Regions from separate parts of the Homo sapiens genome. Here region 1 is linked to region 2. Evidence: fine-mapped expression QTL. Tissue or cell type: T cells. Region 2 holds a variant in brackets; the other region holds the start of a gene. All regions are shown on one strand. Distances are from middle to middle.

What was found. PIP is the estimated chance that this variant, and not a neighbour inherited with it, causes the effect.
Region 1: it holds the start of GAS6, and the variant in region 2 is fine-mapped to the expression of GAS6 in T cells (TOPMed, PIP above 0.99).

What each region holds. Positions count from the first base shown.
Region 1 is chr13:113,862,572-113,865,270 of GRCh38, forward strand. GAS6 (growth arrest specific 6) reads right to left here and starts at 1,505. Exons shown (of 15, transcript NM_000820.4): 1 at 1,262-1,505; 2 at 1,004-1,170. The coding sequence starts at 1,349. GAS6-DT (GAS6 divergent transcript) reads left to right here and starts at 1,606. Exons shown (of 2, transcript NR_044993.1): 1 at 1,606-1,724; 2 at 2,439-2,699. RefSeq lists silencers at 529-578, 1,059-1,118, 1,139-1,198 and an enhancer at 919-1,510.
Region 2 is chr13:113,826,546-113,829,162 of GRCh38, forward strand. It overlaps GAS6 (growth arrest specific 6), which reads right to left. Exons shown (of 15, transcript NM_000820.4): 11 at 2,002-2,166; 12 at 451-619. All of the region lies in intron 1 of GAS6-AS1 (GAS6 antisense RNA 1), which reads left to right. Among named protein-coding and RNA genes, the nearest start is that of GAS6-AS1, 12 kb to the left of the region's middle. The variant G/C (reference allele first, on the strand shown) is at 1,299.

The DNA.
Region 1 (2,699 bases), 36 kb after region 2:
AGCCCCAGGTGCGTCATCTCTGCAGGGATGAGCTATGTCCACAAGTGCACAGTGGCCATCTGACAGCCTCAGAGCTTTCAGAAAGGCAGATCTAAGAGGGGTCAAGTCAACCACTAGAAATGTAAGCGGAAACAGGCCTCCATGGTTCATCCAGAACCACTCTTTCATCCCGGGTGACATTTATTCCACCCCAGGAGAATTCTTTAAAAGGAACATTCCAGCAGAACGGAAAACTTCGCTATGAAATCACCCTGACTTCAGGGCGGGAGGGACGTCAACGGGAATCCACACCTTCTCGGACTTTCCAAAGTCACCCGCTCCCGAGCCCGCAGGATAGAGTGGCCAGGCCGTCCTCACACGGCGGCTCCTGCGGGAGGCGGCCCCGGGCGCCCCGCCTTCTCCAAGGACATTCCTAACCGAGGTGCCGGGGCCAGCACCGTCGGGCTCCTGAAAGCACCCGCTGCCTCCAGGAGAGCACCTGGCAGAACGGGGCCGCGGAGCCGCCCTCCCCTCCCGCATGCGGCCCCGCTCGATTCCTGGAATCTTATTTTTGGACCTGCTGCCGCAAGCAGTTCCCGCCCTCGGCCCTTTCAATTCCTCTTTCGGGAGGGGACTGCTCTCCACCCCTCTCAGGAGGACGAGGCGCGGCCCGGGGGTTCCTCACCTCCAGCCCAGCAGAGGGAGGGCCGCGGGGAAGCGGTTTGGGTTTTAACCATTGTGTTTCTCTCGCACTTTGGAAACGGACTCCCGGCTTCCCCGCGGGGAGGCGTCTGACAGCGAGCGTTTCCCGGACAGCCCCGCAGCGTCTCACCGGCCTGCGCGGGGATCCCGGGGTCGCCGGGGGATGGGCGTGGGGGACGCGGGGCGGGCCGGGGCTCCTGGGACCCTGAGGCCAGGCCTCGCCGCGCGGAGCTGGGGGGCGGCAGCAGCGCTGCCTCTCGGGAGCGGTTGGAGGCGCGCGGGCGCCAGGGGTTCCCCCGCATCCCGCCCGCCGGCTGCTCACCGTCTCGGGGTCGTTCTCGAACACCTCCCGCGCCTCCTCGCGGCTGCACAGCTCCTCCACGCACTCCCTCTCCAGGTGGCCCTGCTTGGCCTCCTCGAAGACCTGAAAGGCGCGGCGCTGCCTGGGCCGCAGGAACTGCGTGGCCTCGCGCGCCGGCAACAGCGCGGCTGCCCGGAGGGAGAGAGGGGGACGCGTCAAGCCGCGCCCGGAGCCTCCTCCCGCCGCCCGGGGACGGGGTCTCGGGCCCGCGGGACTCACCAAGCGCGCACTCCGCGGCCAGCAGCAGCAGCAGCAGCTGCGGCGCGCGGCGCAGGGCGGCGGGCCCGGGCGAGAGCGAAGGGGCCATGGCGGGCCGGGGACGCGCGGTCAGAGCGCCCGGGAGGCCGAGGCGAGCCGCGGGCGCCGCGGGGCGGAGGCTCCGGTCATCCCGTCCTGGCGGCCCTGAAGGTCACATCGCGGCGGCGGCGGCGGCGGCGGCTGCGGCACCTCAAGCGCTCGGTCTGGGCGTGTTCGGGCGGCTGCGCGCGGGGAGGCGGCGGGGGCGGGACCAGCGCGCGGGCGGGGCGCGGGTTCCCGGGAGGATCCGGGCGCGGGGAAAGCGGAGCGTCCGGGACGCGGCGGGACTCGAGTGTTTCGGAAAAGGAGCGTCTCCCCAGGCGGTGGTTGTCTTCACTAGCGATGGGGTAAAAGGAGGACGCAATACCTGGTTCAACTTGAGCAGGTACATTTTGACCATATTCCAGGTGTCATGTGAAGATTTAAGCCTCTTTCCAACCCCCACTCCCCCCGAATCTACTGCATCCTTTTTGGAGTCTTCATTCTTAGGCACATTTTGTCAAGACTTAAAACCTACCAAAGAAAAGATACACTGAGGTCAGATCCAATCCCACTGGGGGCCAGCGAGTGAAATGCGACGGTTTCCTTTTATAATCTCTGTTTTTCATAATGATGACATTAAAAATCTTGAGGTTTCCCAGTAGATATTTAAGCTGAAAGCAACATTGTGCTTGTCTTCAGAGACCAAGACTTTCTGGCTCTTGTCTTGGAATATTTCGCAAAGTCATAGGCAAAACACACACAAACAAACAGAACCAAAACACAGCAGACCACTCACGGGGGACCGAACCAGGCAGTTAGCCCAGCATCCCCCTGCTGCGGGAGGAGGGAGCTTGGATACTCCTCTCTGGAGAATCCTGCTCTGGAAATCCCCACACCCCAAAATGCAATGTAGAGGGGCAGTGAGTCAGCACCTCACCCCAAATGAATGGCCGTTCTGCTCAGCAGGCTCAACGCTTAGATCCCCAGATCCAGTTTCTCTTTGCTTTCTGTAATTGGAAGAATGGAATAGGATTGCTGCTAGAAATCTTTGAGGTCACTGGTTTGAAAGTGGGATTATGAGCATGAATTTTTGTTGTTGTTGTTTGTTTGTTTTCAGACGGAGTCTCGCTATGTTGCCCAGGCTGGGGTGCAGTGGCGTGATCTCTGCTCACTGCAAGCTCCGCCTCCCGGGTTCACGCCATTCTCCTGCCTCAGCCTCCCGAGTAGCTGGGACCACAGGCGCCCGCCACCACGCCCGGCTGATTTTTTTTATTTTTAGTAGAGACGGGGTTTCACCGTGTTAGCCAGGATGATCTCAATCTCCTGACCTCGTGATCCGCCCGCCTGGGCCTCCCAAAGTGCTGGGATTACAGGTGTG
Region 2 (2,617 bases):
CGCAGGCACCTTCTCTCCCCGGCCTCCCGGCGCTGGCCTCGCAGGCACCTTCTCTCCCCGGCCTCCCGGCGCCGGCCTCGCAGGCACCTTCTCTCCCCGGCCTCCTGGCGCCGGCCTCGCAGGCACCTTCTCTCCCCCGCCTCCTGGCGCCGGCCTCGCAGGCACCTTCTCTCCCCGGCCTCCTGGCACTGGCTTCGCAGGCACCTTCTCGGCACATCTCTCTCATTTCTTCTTCACTGGCTGACTCTGAACTGAGTGACCTGCATGGCCATCCTGAGAGGTGGGCCTCTGCCCGCACCTCCGCCCACCCCGCCCACCCATCCCTGCCCCGGAACCGGAGGAGCCTCAGCTTGTCCTGACGCTGCCATCTGAGGCCGTCTGCTTGCTTTCAGCGTATGCCTGTCTGAAGGTGCAGCCACAGCCACCCCAACGGTAAGAGCCAAGACTTACTGTAGTCCAGGCTGTAGAAGGCGAAGCCGCTCCCGGGGTAGAAAGAGCCTCTCTCCGTCACCGAGAAGCACTGCATCCTCGTGTTCACTTTCACCGTTTCCTGGATGGTGGTGTCTTCTCCGTTCAGCCAGTTCCAGCTCCTCATGCAGCCATCCAGACGAGGGTTTATCTGGAAAGGCAGAGAAATCTCCGTGGCTTCCTGGGAGCGAGAAGCCCCATGCCGGATGCCCCAGTCGGTGGGTGGCGCCTTCGCGGCCCTGGTATGTGCAGCTCTACGGCAGAAACGGGCCAGTCCCATCGGTGGTGGCCATTTCACAGAAGGTTTCTTCACTTTACACAACGCCTCACTGCAGAATACCTATTTCCACTGGTGTATGCTCAAGAACTAAAGGTTCATTTTAAAGCTAGGAAAGGACTGAAAAGGCCATGTGGGTCTAAGGTCAAAGAGTATGGATTGTTCAACCATCCAACACTCATGTGAATTATTCAATATTCAATATGGCTGTGGGCAAATCAGGGCAACCCCCTTATCTGTGAAACGAGGAGGGTCCAGCCAGGCAAAGTCCCGGCACCAGGCTGTCTGTGGGCCTGGGAAGCAGGTGCCCCTCACAACACCGAAGGTCCCGGCACCAGGCAGTCTGTGGGCCTGGGGAGCAGGTGCCCCTCACAACACTGAAGGGGTGGCTTCAGCACAGGCACTGCCGACACTCAGCACCCAAAGACGCGAAGACATGCGTGCCTTTCTCCTGCCTGGTGTGGAAGTGAAAATACCCAGGATGACGGCTTAGACGTCAGCACGTGGGGGCTGGAGACACAGGTCGGGGGCACGGGCGTGTGCTGTGCTGAAG[G/C]GGAGAGAAGGCGGGACCTGGAGCAATGGCCCACACTGACCGCCCATCATGGCTGTTTTCCCCTTATGAGACTCACGGCAGAGTTACAAAACCCAAAATGTTCTTGGAAATTGTCCAAAAAAGTTTACTGTTCTGTTAAAGAATAATTTCGGCCGGGCGCGGTGGCTCACGCCTGTAATCCCAGCACTTTGGGAGGCCGAGGTGGGCAGTTCACGAGGTCAGAAGATCGAGACCACGGCGAAACCCCGTCTCTACTAAAAATACAAAAAAATTAGCCGGACGTGGTGGCGGGCGCCTGTAGTCCCAGCTGCCTGGGAGGCTGAGGCAGGAGAATGGCGTGAACCCGGGAGGCGGAGCTTGCAGTGAGCCGAGATCGCGCCACTGCACTCCAGCCTGGGCAACAGAGCAAGACTCCGTCTCAAAAAAAATAATAATAATTTAATTGTGTCTTATCTCCATTGAAAAATAGACAACTTTATTATCAATTCAGATGAAAACTTAGGTCTCATAAAAAGAGATGGTAAAATTAATGACATAGCTGTACGGCGACTTTGTCAAACTCTAGGAAACCTTTCCTTCCTCTAGGTCCTCCTCACACCTGGTTAATGGTAAACACAGGGCAGGGTGTGACTGAGGCTTCCTGACACCGTTCCCGGGATCCCAGCACACGGCGCGTCTACACAGGGACAGGTACAGTACTCACAGGCTGCACGAGGTCCTTCTCATGGAAGGGAATACCTCCCACGGTCAGGTTCAGATGATACAGTCCTCGCTCCGGTTGGAACAAGTCCCCGGCCACCGCGATTTTCATGACAGCATCCCTGTTGACCTTGATGACCAGATTCCGCGCCAGCTCCTCAACAGAGATCTGAAGAGAGGCAGCGCCATGAGAAAAGATGGGAGTGCACGTTCTGAAGGGGCTCCCAACTGAGAAAAACCACACTCATCCTCTCCTGAGCCAAGAGGGTCCCGACCTCGGGGAGGCCACCTGATCCTCACCTGGGCCAAGAGGGTCCCAACCTCAGGGAGACCACCTGATCCTCCCCTGAGCCAAGAGGGTCCCGATCTCAGGGAGACCACCTGATCCTCCCCTGAGCCAAGAGGGTCCCGACCTCAGGGAGACCACCTGATCCTCCCCTGAGCCAAGAGGGTCCCGATCTCAGGGAGACCACCTGATCCTCACCTGGGCCAAGAGGGTCTCAATCTCAGGCAGACCACATGATCCTCACCTGGGCCAAGAGGGTCCCGATCTCAGGGAGGCCACCTGATCCTCACCTGGGCCAAGAGGGTCCCGACCTCAGGGAGACCACCTGATCCTC